Regions from separate parts of the Homo sapiens genome. Here region 2 is linked to region 1. Evidence: fine-mapped expression QTL. Tissue or cell type: atrial appendage. Region 1 holds a variant in brackets; the other region holds the start of a gene. All regions are shown on one strand. Distances are between the middles of the regions.

The links. PIP is the estimated chance that this variant, and not a neighbour inherited with it, causes the effect.
Region 2: it holds the start of HHIPL2, and the variant in region 1 is fine-mapped to the expression of HHIPL2 in atrial appendage (GTEx, PIP 0.95).

Annotation. Positions count from the first base shown.
Region 1 is chr1:222,580,411-222,588,517 of GRCh38, forward strand. It overlaps TAF1A (TATA-box binding protein associated factor, RNA polymerase I subunit A), which reads right to left. Exons shown (of 11, transcript NM_005681.4): 2 at 8,033-8,107; 3 at 3,718-3,887. Among named protein-coding and RNA genes, the nearest start is that of TAF1A-AS1, 5.5 kb to the right of the region's middle. RefSeq lists an enhancer at 1,936-2,075. The variant T/C (reference allele first, on the strand shown) is at 4,170.
Region 2 is chr1:222,543,018-222,551,122 of GRCh38, forward strand. HHIPL2 (HHIP like 2) reads right to left here and starts at 5,087. Exons shown (of 9, transcript NM_024746.4): 1 at 4,707-5,087; 2 at 520-1,172. The coding sequence starts at 5,027.

The DNA.
Region 1 (8,107 bases):
ACCAAAACTTTGGCGGCAGAACTTGGAGCTCTTTTTTCATGAGAGCAAATCTCTATTTCGCTAACCTCAATTTAAAGTAATCAATAATACCAACTTCAAAGTAAATTAAACTGAACTGTAAATCAATTATTTCTATGAACATACATATTGGTTATATGTGGATACACACACTATCACTGCTATAGTTATATATGATACACATATTATCATTTGATATAAGGATCCTCATCTTCCCAACTCAGAGATATCAAGATTTCATTTGTAGAATATCACACTGTAGTATTTGGGAGCTTAAAGAAAACCTGGGTCTTGGATCACCTACCACCAGGGATGGGTAAATGCAGGGGGGGAAGAAAAGCAGGAAAAAAAAAAAAAAGAAAACTTTGAGATTATGATAGCTATTCTCACCACCAGTGTACACAGTAATTACATGGGACACCAGTTAAAAATAGGTATTCTGGGCCAGGCGCGGTGGCTCACACCTGTAATCCCAGGATTTTGGGAGGCCGAGGCGGGTGGATCACGAGGTCAGGAGAGTGAGACCATCCTGGCTAACACGGTGAAACCCCGTCTCTACTAAAAATACAAAAAATTAGCCAGGCGTCGTGGCGGGAGGCGGAGCTTGCAGCGAGCCAAGATCGTGCCACTGCACTCCAGCCTGGGTGACAAAGTGAGTGAGACTCCATCTCAAAAAATAAAAAAATACAAATAAAAGATACTCTGACTCAATAGACAGGGGTGGAGTAAAGGAATTTATACTTTGAATGAAAGCCCTAGGTGATCCAAAGAGAGCCAAAGAAGTGCTCAAAAACCACTGATCCAATTCCTTCATTTTACAAAACAAAATCTGGACAACAAGAGGCTGTAACATGTTCAATGTTTTACAGGAGTATGTAACTTAAGTCCATAAATTAAATTTTCAATGAATGGTTAAACTTTTTTTTCAGCTTCTCTTTTTTATTTTTTTTGCTCTAGAAGATAACTAATTGATGCAATGGTGACTGTGTTAGTAAAACCTATGAGACACTCATGTCAAGTTATTTGTGGGTAAACTGTCTTTTACTGAAGAAATTTAGCAGTATATGCCAGGCACTGTTTTAACCCTGCCCTGTGAAATTTACATTCTATGTAGAGAGACAAACAATAACCAAGAAATATAATTAAATTGTCAACTGTTAGAGGAAAAGAATGCAGCAGGACAAGGAGATCAGGAGTGCCATTCAGAAAGTGCAGGTTGCAGTTGGAGTAAGGCAATTGCAATTTTAAATAGTCAAAGTAGGCCTCAATGAAAAGGGGCCTTGAAGGAGGGTAGCTGCAGTGATAGCTGAAGAAAGAGCTTTCCAAGAACTGGTTAAGGCAAAGGCAATCAGTCAGGAATATGCCTGGCCCATTCAAGTAAGAACAAGGAGACCAGTGAGGATGGAAAAGAAAAAACAAGCAGGATAATACAGGTTGAGTATCCCTTATCTGAAATCGTTGGGACCAGAAATGTTTCAGACTTGAAATTGTTTCCGCTTTTTAAATATTTGTATATACATAATGAGACTGGGGATAGGACCAAAGGCTAAACATGAAATTCACTTATGTTTCATATACACCTATACATATAGCCTGAAGGTAATTTTATATAATATTCTTAAAATTTTGTGCATGAAACAAAATTTGTATACATTGAACCATTAGAAAGCAAAGGTGTCACTATCTCATGTCAGTAATGAAAAAGCTTTGAAGCATTCTGGTTTTCACATTTTTGAATTCGGAATGCTCCACCTGTTTCAGGAGATGAAGTCAGAGAGGTCAAACAAGGAAAGGAAGTGAGCACATCACATAGGAATTTATAGGCAATTATGACTTTGGCTTTTACTGAATGAAATGGAAAGCTATTACAGTGTTTTCAGCAGAGGAGTGACATGATCTGATATGTTTTAAAAAGCTCACTCTGAATCATTAGTCATTAGAGAAATGCAAATCATAACCAGGATGATGCCACTTCACAACCACAAGGATGACTATTATCAGTAAGACAGGACAATAACAAAATATTGGCAAGGATTAGAGAAATTAGAAGCCTCAGATATTGCTGGTGAGAATATAAATGGTATGGCCACTTTGGAAAACAGTCTGGCAGTTCCTCAAGAGGCTAAACATAGTGTTACCATATGACCAGCAATTCCACTCCCAGGTGTAGACCCAGGAGAAATTAAAACAAACGTCCACACAAAAACCTGTACACAAATGTTCGCAGAAGCATTATTTCCAATAACCGAAAAGCAAAAACAACCTAAGTGTCTAACAACTGATAAATGGACAAATAAAACATGGTATTTCCATATGACAGATTATTTGGCAATAAAAGTAATGAAGTACTTATACATGCTACAACATGGATAAACCATGAAAACATTATGCCAAGTGAAAGAAATCATTTACAAAAGGCCACATATTGTACAAAACCACTTATATGAAATGTCCAGAATAGAAAATAGATTAGGCTGGCCATAGTGGCTCACGCTTGCAATACCAGCACTTTGGGGAGGCCGAGGTGGACAGATCACTTGAGGCCAGGAGTTCAAGACCTGCCTGGCCAACAGAGTGAAACCCAGTCTCCACTAAAAATACAAAAAACTAGATAGGTGTGGTGGTGCATGCCTGCAATCCCAGCCACCCAAGAGGCTGAGGTACAAGAATCACTTGAACACAGGAGCTGGAGGTTGCAGTGAGCAGAGATCATGCCACTGCACTCCAGCCTGGGCAACAGAGCAAGACTCCGTTTCAAAAGAAAACAAAAAAAGAAAAAGAAAGTAATAGATTAGTGGCTGCCAGTGTCCGGCAGCTGTGAGGAGGAATGGGGAAGGACTGCAAGTGGGTACAGGGTTTTGGTTTCATGGGAGAAAAAAAAGGTTCTAAATTTAGAGTGTGGTAATGGTTGGTTGCACAACTCTGTAAATGTATGAAAATACATTGAATTGTACAATTTAAGTGGGTGATGGCGTATAAAAAACGTCTTGATAAAACGAAAAAAAAAAGGATCACTCTAGTTGGAAAAAGAGAACAACTCTTTCAAGAAGTTTTGCTGAAAGAGAGTAAAACAATGAAGTATAGTCTATGGGGGAAGTTTGGGTCAAGAGATGATTTTAAGATAGAATAGGCTGGGCATGGTGGCTCACACCTGTAATCCCAGCACTTTGGGAGGCCGAGGCAGGCGGATCACGAGGTCAAGAGATTGAGACCGTCCTGGCCAACCTGGTGAAACCCCGTCTCTACCAAAATACAAAAAATTAGCCGGGCGTGGTGGTACATGCCTGTAGTCCCAGCTACTCAGGAGGCTGAGGCAGGGGAATCACTTGAACCCAGGAGGTAAGAGATTGCAGTGAGCCGAGATCGCGCTACTTCACTCCAGCCTGGCGACAGAGCAAGACTCCGTCTCAAAAAAAAAAAAAAAAGATAGAATAACAAAATTTTTACATGATGATGGGAAACATCCATAAAGAGGGGGGAAAAGGAAGAATTATTGGAATGAACATTTTAGTCCCCTTTAAAATAAGAGGTAAAAAGAAGTGTGCAAAAAAGGTCCCAATACAAACTCTCCACTCAAAAGTAGTTTTAGTAGCTTTTAGCAAAATCACTGAGATTCTGTAAAAGCTACTGTAGGTGAAGCTGTAGGCATAAACTTCTGGGAATCTATCATTTCTTCCAGCAAACTCAAATTTTATTTACCTCAGGTGCAGCCTGCCTTTTGTAGCTATCTGAATCTTCCAAGGTCTGAAAATAACTGTACATGTATTCTGCAGCTTGCTGCCATTGGTGCTTCAGCAGAGCTTCTTGGATAAAACTTAAACAAGCACTTGTTGTCTGAGCAAAATCCTTCCTCCTTTTCCCTCCAATGGCTATAAAAACGAAAAAGAAGAGAGTTTTTATCCAAGTGGCTCCAGTTCAACTATTCAAAAAACTTACTTCTGATAAGAAGTTTTAACAAGTAAACAGTAGGCATTACTTGACCCAGCCCATTCCCAGTACCAAAGCCAGCTTCACTTGAAACAAACCCTTCTACATTATATTAATTATTTTTAGCAGATAAAAACATTTCTAATTTGATGTTTTGGGGCTACTAGAGTCACCAGATCCTTTAAATCTGATTCAATCATCCTTTCATCCTTGTACCAAATAAT[T/C]TGCGGAGAATCTCTCAAACAGGCCCCCAAAAGCACAGTCCCAGGTATTTAGAATGGGTAAAATGTCAGGGTCATTCTAGGCAAACATGGTCTTTATTACCTACCCATGTTCTGCAAACCCCAAGTGGGCTTTTATTTTTTAAGGACCAAATTCCTAGTAACTCAATGATATTATATACAAATGAGATTAAAACAGTTGCAAAAATTAGCATTTATATCTCTAAAGTATTGGCAATCCCAATGTTAAGAACATTTGGGCTTAGATACAGTGCTATTATATGAATGACTAGTTACATTGCTACATCTTCTTATCTTCCCACGTAACTATGAGACCCCTCTAGTCCAGCTGGGTAATTGTACCCCAGTAAGTACACAAAGACCAACAGGTACTTTACAAAGATACTTTTAAAACAATTAACTTGCAGATATTTGATTTCCTTACATACTCTTTCCACAAGTTAATCTCCTAGACAGCTGTGCCTACATAGTCAAAGCTTCACAATCAAAATCATTACACACTATCTGAAGGTGAAAACACAGGTGTTGAAAAAGTAAATAACTCTAACATCTCCTTTTGCAAGTTAGGCAATTCCCAATTCTTTGCTCATCAAAACTGCAGAACAACGTAATTTTTTACAATAAATCATTATGCAATTTTTCATCAATAATTTAGAAAAAATTCACAGACCTGATACACGGCTATAATTAAACTCCATTCACTGCCATCTACTTACTTATGTGACTAAGGTTTCTCAGAATTTATGTCAATTAAAAAAAATAGCAGAATCAATGCTAAATGTTTTCTCATTCTAGAAATACATAAAAGTCACCCACAAATACATAAAAAATTGGGGAAAAGTTTTAGATAACTTTATTAAAAAAAAAAAAAAAAGAGTCTTGCTCTGTCACCCAGGCTGGACCGCACTAGCACAATCACAGCTCACCATAGCCTAGACCTCCTGGGTTCAAGTGATCCTTCCTTTTGGCCTCCCAAAGTGCTGGGATTATGAGCATGAGCCACCACACCTGGCCAACAACACGTTTAATACACGTTATATTGATCAGCTGTGTACAACTATTAATGATAGCAATGTCTCAACCTAGAAAAAGTTTTAATTCTTAAAACTTACAGGATATAAACAAAAAAAGTATAAATATTGATACATACTTTTATTGCAAGAAGTACAACAAAGAGGAACATAAAATGTCCATCTATTAAAAGCTTGTTCATAATTTTTTTTAAAATGAATAACGCAAGGTATTAAAACCCTATGCCATTCCTGTGCTATTTGGACTCCATCACATATAAAGTAATATATAGTCATTTAAAAATACCAACATGCTGGAAATTTTATCTCTTGCAAATATTAAACATACAATAAAATTTTTTCAGATGATTCCTTAAAACTATGCAAGGTAGTACTCAATTTTTCAGAAAAAACTAGGGGATACAAAAGTGAAAAGTTTGAAGACTACTGTGCTAGACTAGTGTTCTCAGACTTTTGAATGTACATACAAATCACCTGGGGACCTGCCCTTGCTACTCAATGTGGTCCTGGCATGCAGCAGAAGTATCACCTGGAATCTCATTACAACTACAGAGTACTATGCCCAGCTCTCTCAATCAGAAGCTGCATTTTATAAGATCTACACCAAAGCTGCTCGGCATCAGTGGCAATACCTGCCAGCTAGCCTAGGAAACTGACAAAACACCTCGTCCTTAAAACATCCCTTATTTACCTAAAGGAGAGAACTGTTCTCAGGCTAAGCTCCCTTCTATCGCTCAAGCTTTCACAACTGAGATTATAAATTGACTTTAGATAACTATACCTAAATGTTTGGAAAATACTTTTGTCTTCCAACCTAGCCTAGCTACCTCAGGAAAAGTTCTCCTCTCATTTCATTCTTTAATGAGCAAAAGATAGTCTTACTTGATCCTGATGACTTTAAGAAAAAAAAATTGTCAAGGAAAACACATTTTTACATGGAATAGAGATGTACAATAAAGAACTAGTGTCATCAACCTAACTTCTAATATGCTACTCAAAGAATCTGGAAACTTATCAATCTGTCAACAAGTATTTTTTGGGCACCACTGTGTCCCAAGCACTATCGCAGGTACTCATCATACAGCTTCAATCCAGACTGGCCCTGTCTTCAAAGTTTTTATTCTAAGGGGGTTGCTGGGCATGCCCTTCAAAAAGCCAAAAGATATCTACCAGCATAAAAAATAAATAGAACAATTGTTAGGCAATTTTGTTTTCCTATTATGGTTAATTACCAGCACAATGTCAATATTAATTGCAAGTATTTTCTCATTGCAGACCAAAAGTATTTTCGGTTTAACAGGCTATCCATGACATATAAAATATTCCTAAGCATGTAAATTTTGGTCTTTGGTCTTAAACCTATCTGCTTGCAGACTGACTCAGACTTTCTATAGAACACTGGTAACAGAAACATACCCAAGTATGACTTAACTATAGGAAATTTAAATTACTAGTTTGTTCCCTACCAGGGATGCGGTAGCACTACCTCTGAAGTATCATTCATTCAAATCTGCCTTAAGCCATGTGCATTAATCTAGCAAAAATAAAATGAGGAGAGGAAAGGCACTATTATTTTTCAACACTCATTATGCATGAGATACTATGCTAGGTACTTTACATATATTGTCTCATTTTTAAAAATGCATCTCAGTCGTTAAAAGTGTAAGCTTTGAGATCAGACAAACCTGGATTTGACTCCTGATACCACTTAAGAGTTTAATGTCTTTGAGATTCAGTTTCATCCTACCTAAACTGCCTAGCATAAAAATTTATTGAGAATTTACTGAGATCATTAAATGGGATGATACTTAGATCAAAAGAAAAAAATGGAAGCGAAATTTTAGGAGCCAAGGAATCTCTGTCAAGGGGAGAAAAGGCTGGGCAAAAAAACACATATTTAAGGGCAGTAAGTAAAATGCTGGTTCAAATGTAATCCCAGGACTATACCACTCAATATGCCAGCATACAGATAATAGCTTCTTTTATTTATACTTATATTAAATATATTCTTATAGGGAATTTATCCCATAGAAAAACATACTTGCATTTATATTAGATAAAAATGGGGGAAATTTTATCCCATAGAAAATCATGCTTGCATTTACATTAGATAAAAATGGGGGAAAATGCTCTTTTATCTAGGCCGGGTGCAGTGGCTCATGCCTGTAATCCCACCACTTTGGGAGGCTGAGGTGGGCAGGTCACTTGAGGTCAAGAGTTCAAGAACAGCCTGCCCAACATGGTGAAACCCTGTCTCTATTAAAAATACAAAAACTAGCCAGGCGTGGTGGCTGGTACCTGTAATCTCAGTTACTCGGGAGGCTGAGTAGAATCACTTGAACCTGGGAGACAGAGGTTGCAGTGAGCCAAGATCTAGCCACTGCACTCCAGCGTGGGCAACAGAGCAAGACTCTGTCTCAAAAAAAAAAAAAATCTATTACACGATCAATTCTATTCGAAATAATTTCAATGCAATTCAACAGCAACTTCTTGAACACTTCCTAGGCATGTTTTCCTCAATGGCAGAGACCATATCTTCACCTATGACTCCCCAATATTTAATCAATGCCAGAGATAAAAGTGCTCAGTAAGTATTACTGGAAAAAATGTGTATCTAGCATAATACAGACTATCTATTATTAATCCAAGGGCAAAGAATTCTAAAAGAAAAAAGATTTCTTTTGGCTTTTAGCCAAAAAACCCTCCACATATTCCTCTTGAAAATTAAACCAGTCTGGTTATTCATTTTGTATCCCTATTGAATCTTACCACCTCCTTAAAGTTAAAATGGCTCAATGTTATTATTTTACTTACCCACAGTTTCTACGTATGTTTGAAGCCAAGGAAAATGCATTCCTGCACCACTGAGCACAGATGTTTCCACTTCTT
Region 2 (8,105 bases), 37 kb before region 1:
ACAAGAGAGAAAGGAGAAGAAGGAAAAACAAAGGCAGAGTGGTAGGGTGGAAAGAGCATGAACTTGGGGTCAGTTAAAACTGAGTCCTCACCTGGCCATGCATCCATAGCTTGATGGCCTTGTGCCACAGCTTCCAGTGAGAATAAGAAATCCCACATTCAAAGTAAAGGCCCTGGGATCTAATGGCACATAATAATCAGAGGCTACTATTATGTTTCATATGTTGATATTATCTATAATCCTTTCTCAGACCCCTATGGCTGCTGGTCCTTACTTACCCTTTGTAAAGACAGGAAAGTATGTCTTTATTTAGGGTAACTGTAAGGTGATGGCTACATCCCATTAAACAGCCTTAACTCAAGAGGCTAACTTGGGCCGTTCTCAATCCACAGTGACTCCTTTCTCAACAGTTCGAGTAGTGCTCTAAAACCAGTGAAGTTCCCCTCTATTATCTCGCAGACCTGGTTGGCATTATTTCGGAACACAGTACAGCTGTAGGCTCTCATGAGTACCTCTCACCTCTCTGATTTCAGGTCAGCTTTGTTAGGATCAGCCCGAGAAACCTTCATCTCACTAATTCGGATCTTTTCTACCTTCTTCTTGTCCAGGCACGAATAATAAATATAGAACTTGCGATTGTGGCGGAATTTGGGGTGAAAAGCCAACCCCAAGAAGCCTCTCTCATCCCCGATCCATGGGGTGGTCAACACGATGTTCTTGAGGTCCAGGAAGGGTTGCTCCAGGCGACTCCCATCAGGGAGGTAGACCCACACCACTCCTACCTGCTCGGCAACAAAGAAGCGATGGGTGCCGTCCCCAGCATGGACCATGGAGACGGGGTTCCTCAGCCCGTTGGCCACCTCGCTCAGGCAGAGCTGCAGGCAGCCCTGAGGATCTTGGGCCACCATGCCCAGGTGGCGGTTGAGATAGTCGTTCCTCAGGACATTAGGGAAGCAATAGTCCTTGTCAGGAAGGTCCAGGAGGTGGCAGAAGCGGGTACCGTCCCTTCCATGAGACTCCTGGAGGCCGCGGTCATTGGTCAGCAGGGAAATGGCTGAGTGACAGTTAGAATGGAAGGCAGAGCAGTAATCAGAGCAGAGGCCCGGGAGATTCCGGAGAGGCGTCTGGGTGTTTTCGGCGTCGTAGAGGTGGGCTGCGTAGGGCGAGCACTCCTAAAAAAGAACGCGGAGCTCAGGCTCAGCATCAGACCTGCCACACCGGCACTTGTCTCAAGTTTTGAGCAAGCAGAAAGAAAAAATGGTGCTAGGCGGAAAAAATCAGGATTTTGGAGTTTTTGTTACCAACTGCTGCTAAAACTCTTCTCTGTGATTTTCTACCTAGTTAATGCTCCTAGAAGGCAGAAAACAGGGAAAATCTCTCATATTCACTGTACTATCTCTAACATTTCAGCTTAGTTTTTGACATTTAAAGTTTTATTAAATGATGCATGAATATTTTTTCAAAAAGATATTACTAAATTTCTAGATCTCTTTCTTATTTTTTAATTTTCATTTTATTTTATTTTTCATAGAAACGGCCTCACCATGTTGCCCAGGCTGATTCCTAACTCCTAGGCTCAAGTGATTCTCCTGCCTCTTCGATCTCCCAAAGTGCTGGGATTACAGGCATGAGCCACCATGTCGGCCCAGCCTCATTTTCTTATGGATGCTATATCTACCAAGATGTTATTTCTTTATACAAATCTGAAACAATTTGGCAAAAATTTTACATTTGTTCAAATCTGGTTGTTGGAGATACAGTGTTAATTATTTTTCTGTGCTTTTCCATATTTTTGGAATATTTTACAATGAAAAATAAAGTTATCAGAATTGACATTGGATGTATCACTCTCAGAGATTAGGTGTTTAGCAATTTCTTTAATTATTGATTTTAAAAATTTCAGTGTTTAATATATGCAAAGTACCATGCTGGAACCTATACACATTTGAATTGTGGCTATAGGGCAATATGCCTGCTCCTTACACAAACATATAAGGACTATTTGCTCAAAGGAGTATCTGCTACTTGGACCTCCCTAGACTATAACATTTTTTAGGAGGAAAATAGAATATTGTGAGCAGACGAGCGACTCCCAGTAGTGATGAAAGACAGAGGCAACTGAGATTAGGAAGGTAAGAAAGCCCAATTCAAAGGGTGTCGTTTGGAGCCGTGCATTAGAGCAGAGTTCACCCATTGGCCCAGAAGCCCCCTTCTGATCACTAAGGACTCTCCTGAGCCAGCCAGCCTGTGCAGAACCATCTCATTCACCTCTGTGCTGCCATCGCTTCACAAAAGGACCAGCAGCATTTTTCATGTATATGTGAGTTCCCTGTTCTCTCTTATTTCCTCTGATTGTACGCTGCAGAGTCAGCTTTCGGTCATTGGGCAGAGTGGAAGAAGGAGCTCAGAGATTCGCAGGCTCCCCTCGGGGTGTCTGTTTCCATTTAAGACACTTATCACAGCAGCTATCAAGAAGCAACATGACCCACTCTTAAGTGTCCCCTTGCTCATTCTGTCCACTCTCGGAGACTGGGAAAAAGGGAGAAGGGAGGCTGAATTAAGGATCCAATACTAGAGAATAGAAGGGGGCTGTGGAAAGAGAACCATCACTATGGCACACTCTCATGCAGCCATTTAGAGTTTGCAAATTTGCTTCTACTCAATTAGCTCAGTAAATGAACAGATACTTCCCTACTTCAAAGGGAAGAAAATCAAAGCCCATAAGGTCTCTAGCCAGGCGCAGTAGCTCACGCCTGTAATCCCAGCACTTTGAGAGGATGAGGGGGGCAGATCACCTAAGGTCAGGAGTTCAAGACCAGCCTGGCCAACATGGTGAAACCCTGTCACTACTAAAAATAAAAAAATTAAAAAAATAAAAAAACCCAGGCATGGTGTCATGTGCCTGTAGTCCCAGGTACTCAGGAGGCTGAGACAGGAGAATCGCTTGAAGCCGGGAGGCAGAGGTTGTAGTCAGCCAAGACCGTGCCACTGCACTCCATCCTGAGTGACAGAGTAAGACTCTGTCTCAAAAAATAAATAAATAAATAAATAAATAAAAGTCCTATGTGACTCTCCTGTTGAGTCTGTCTTACGTGCCAGGCACCGTTCTCTACATTGATTGGGATGCAGCAGTGAGCGAAATGCACAAAGTCTCTCTTCCAATGGAGCATATAGTTTGGGGAGCTCAGAAAACCGTTAAGTAAACAAGCCAGTGCTGCTGTAACTATACTTTAGCACGGTGTGATCAAAAGGCACAAAACTTGGAGCCTGAGCATCTGGCTCTGTGCCCCAGGATTGTTTTACCTTGGGTAAGTCATCTAAACTCTTGAGCCCTCATCAGTAAAATGAGGATCATAACAACTGCCTGCAGAATCATTGCTGGGTACACACTACATACGTTGGGGAAGAAAGAGGACCTTATAAATGTGAATAAATAAACACGTGTAGGACTGTTTGGCTGAAATTGTTCTTATTCCTCAAATCCCTAAAACAACAGAGCTGCTGACTTTGACTTTCTGAAACCTCATGCAAGAGGGAAGGGTCAGGGGTATAAATTTTTACCAGGGATGATCTCAGAAATAAACATTCTCAGTGCTGCTTGTAAAAGCTCAGCTTCTACCCTAATGGGAATCCTAGAGTTAATTCTCCAGGAAACAGCTGTGGAGTGGTGTCTAAGAGGACAGCCCCAGGCGGTGCCACCCAGGTGGCTGACTTTCTGGGCCAGGCTCAGCTGTAATTCTCTCCTGGACTCTGGGAAGCTCGGTTAACCACTTCACGCCCTATGTGGGAGTTACAGTGGTCTGCAGGCTCAGGAACAGTGGCGCCAGGAGTCATGAACAGATGCCTGTGGATAGCCAAGTCATTGTGCTGACAAGCCCAGGGGGTCTCAGTTCAAAAGGCTGCCTGGACTTCTTGCCTCTCCTCCCCAACATCATTAGAGGGGTCCTCCCCAGGCAGCCTCTTTTATCAGCTTTCCAAATGCTGACCTCTCCCCATTAACCCCCAAACACCCTCTTCCTACAAAGTCTGTGTGTGCAGCCTACACCCGTCTTGTTTTCAGGCTGAGCTCAATCAAAACGATGCCTCCCAGGCATGTGGATTTTGGCTGTTGGGCAACCAGGAGAAGCAGAAACTCTGTGAGTCACTGCTACTCAGCAGCTTGCATCTCTCTCTTCCAGCTCTGGAGTGCTGGGCAGACAGAACTCTGGAGAGAGTCTCCAACCCCTGCCACCGCCAGGGTGACGCCAGAGATGCCCTGGCACAAATCACCCAGATGAAAAGGACTGGACCCCAGCAGATGCCACCACTCCCTCCCTTAACGCGCTCGGTAAATTCCACGGGTTTAAGTGCCTAGCTCTCTGAGCACCGCAGAGGATGCAAATAATTATTTGCCATGCACCACAGAGGGAGTGTGGCAAATAATGGCTGCTCTGAGAGCTCCAGGAAGAGTGTCCCTCTCATTCTCCTGGAGCCTGGAGAAGAATCAGGGCCAGCAGAATCCCAGAGGGAGAGCTTTGGGGAACCCATGGAGACCAAATTCAGCACACACTCATGTCAGTGTGCGTGTCCAAAGCCGGCAGCTCCAAGATGAGGCACCCGGCACATGAACTTCTAAAGGGCTGGGCTCCCAAAGCACCCTCCGCTCAGGACCCACACCATGCAGCCCAGCACCCAAACCCCTGGGGCTGGAAGGCACTTTTCACTACCTGGCAAAGGATGTCTTTAATGTAATCTCCACACAGCTCATGTCTCTTCAGATCAAAATATTCCATGATGTCCCAGTACCGGGCAGCGATGCGGCGGTCCTTGTGCTGATCACAGCAGCCGAAGGACTCATAGTCAGAGCAAAACTCAAGGTGCAGAGGGGGCTGGAAAGGGGGCCCGTAATCCAGGCACTGGGGGTGTCCCTGCAGCAAGCCCACCTGGCCCAACAAGAATATGAGGCAGAGGCAGAGAATGCCAGAAGAGAGCCAGGGGGCCCGGCAATGCAGACCACCACACAGATTAGGAGTGGACGTTCTCAGCATTTTGGCCTTGGGAACACTCGGGCTGCTGTGTTTGCTCAGGTTGGCTTCCCTGCTCTGCCCAAGGTCCTCCCTCTCTTCCTCCCCCTACTCCACCCTGTTTTCTCCTCCTTCCTCCTCTTCCCCGCCCCTCCCTGCTGAGGTAGTTTCTGAGCAGTGTCCCTTCTGTGGGCTCCCTTTGAAAGCAGTGGGAGGTGTCCCTTCCCCCCTCCCCCAACCCATCTAAACATGAAGCCCCACTCTAGTGCTGCTAGTGTTATGGGGGCACACCTTTGCTTAGCCAAAAGTGTAGTGGTGTCAATGGCAGAGGTGCTCGATTCCTTAAAACTGCAAAGAATTCCTGCTGTCTGTGGGGATGCCCGGAAATTCACACTTTTTTATGTTTCTTCACAGGCTGAGAGGCCCAGAGTCACCATGAGAGCACCATATATTACATCATCCCAGACTTCACACTCTGTAGAAGGAAAGCTTCAAGCGTTTCTACAGTGCTGAAGGGCCCCAAGGCGGTGGGAGATATGGAGGGGCCATGGCAGGAGGCAGGGTGTGCTGTATAGCTCCTGGGATCTGGCAAGGTGTATATTTGGAAGGGTAGGAAGAGAGGGCATTTCATGAATCTTGCATCCACAGTAAGGACCAAGGAGAGGAAGGAGGACACAGTGAAGGAAAAGAAGGGGAATCTTAGTCCATGCTGCTGTAACAAAACACCACAGACTGTAATTATAAATAATAGAAATGTATTGGTCACAGTTCTGGAGGCTGGGAAGTCCAAGATCAAGATGGCAGTAGGGGCTGGGCATGGTGGTTCATGCATGTAATCCCAGCACTGCGGGAGCCTGAGGCAGGAGGATTACTTGAGCCCAGGAGGTTGAGACCAAACTGGGCAATGCTGTGAGACCCCGTCTCTACAAATATAAAAAGAAAATTAACCAGCCATGGTGGTGCACACCTGTAGTTCCAGCTACTTGGGAAGCTGAGTCAGGAGGATTGCTTGAGCCCAGGAGTTTGAGGCTGCAGTCAGCTATGATCACGCCACTGCACTCCAGCCTGGGCAACAGAGCAAGACCATCTCTAAAAATAAAAAAAAATAAGAGATGCCAACAGGTTCAGTGTCCGACGAGGGCTCTGTTCCTCATTGATGGTGACTTGTTGCTCCCATGGTGGGACAGGATGGTTCAAATCCACTCCTTCAAGACCTTTTATAAAGACCCTAATCCTATCCATGAGGCCTCTGCCTTCATGACCTAATCACCTCCCAAAGGCTCCACTTCTTAATACTATCACATTGGCGATTACATTCCAATCTATGAATCTGAGGTAGGGAGGGACACATTCAGACCATAGAAGAGGGAGGTGGTCCAGTGAAAACAAGGAATCAACAAGGACTGTTTGGGACAATTTCCTCAGGAAGCACAGGACAACTGGGTGCCTTCCTTTGCCAAATCTATACCTGCTGTAGGGACACTCCTCCTCACTTAGTATATGTTCCCACATTAGTATTTTAAAAATGTGTTTTGTGGCCGGGCACAGTGGCTCATGCCTGAAATCCCAGCACTTTGGGAGGCCGAGGCGGGTGAATCACCTGAGGTCCGGAGTTCAAGACCAGCCTGGCCAACATGGTGAAATTCCATCTTTCCTAAAAATACAAGAATTAGCGGCCAGGTGTGGTAGCTCACACCTGTAATCCCAGCACTTTGGGAGGCCAAGGCGGGCGGATCACAAGGTCAGGAGTTCAAGACCAGCCTGGCCAGCATGGCGAAACCCCGTTTCTACTAAAAATACAAAAAATTAGCTGGGCATGGTGGCGCATGCCTGTAGTCCCAGCTACTCAGGAGGCTGAGGCAGGATAATTGCTTGAACCCAGCAGGCGAAGGTTGCAGTGAGCCGAGATCATGCCACTGCATTCCAGCCTGGGTGACAGAGCAAGACTCCATCTCAAAAAAAAAAAAAATTAGCTGGGTGTGGTGGCGGGCGCCTGTAATCCCAGCTACTTGGGAGGCTGAGGCAGGAGAATCGCTTGAACCCAGAAGGCAGAGGTTGCAGTGAGCTGAGACTGTGCCATTGCACTCCAGCCTGGGCAACAAGAGTGAAACTCCATCTCAAAAAGTAATAATAATAAAATAAATATAAAATAAAATAAAAACGTGTTTTCCTTTGTCCACATCCCTTGCACATAACAGGCTTTGATAAATATTTCTTGAATGAATAAATGCAGAACAGGAGTCCCAAACTCACACAGCCCCAAACCCAAACAAGCATGAGCCAAGGTGTAGGCCAATGGGGACATTTGGCACTTGAGCTAACTCTCCTTTCAGCATTTTCCATGGTTCTGGTCCACCTTGAATTTCCTTACTGGCAAAAGCTTCTGTTTGAAACGCAGATGAAGTCCAAGTTTCTTCTTGTTCCAGATGTGCTGCTTCAGAGGGTGCCCTACCTGGCTGCCCAACTCATCGCCAGAAACAGTATTTGCCAGGGTATCATCAAGAAGGGACAGTGAACCTCAGTCTAGCCAAGTCTATACTCACAATGTTCTGGATTATGAAAGCCCCAAATAGCATTTAAAATACAAACAAAATTGGCCAGGTGTGGTTAATGCCTATAATCCCAGGACTTTGGGAGGCCAAGGCAGGAGGATCATTTGAGCCCAAAAGTTTAAGACCAGACTGGGCAACATAGTGAGACCCTGTTGCTATAAAAATTTTTTAAATTAGCTGGGTGTGGTGGCGTGTATCTGTAGTCCTAGTTACTTGGGAGGCTAAGGTGGGAGAATTGCTTGAGCATAGGAGTTCGAGGCTGTGGTGATCTGTGATCACACCGCTGCACTCCAGCCTGGGTGACACAGGAAGATCCTGTAGATAGGTAGGTAGGCAGAAAGATAGATGCATAGATAGATAGATAGATAGATAGATAGATAGATAGATAGATAGGAGGGAGTAGTCAGAATGATCATCAGAATAGTCCTGCTTTCCTATTTGTACTGTTCAGTACTACACCTAGTTGGCCGGGTGCAGTGGCTCATGCCTGTAATCCCAACACTTTGGGAGGCTGAGGCGGGTGGATCACTTGAGGCCAGGAGTTTGAGAC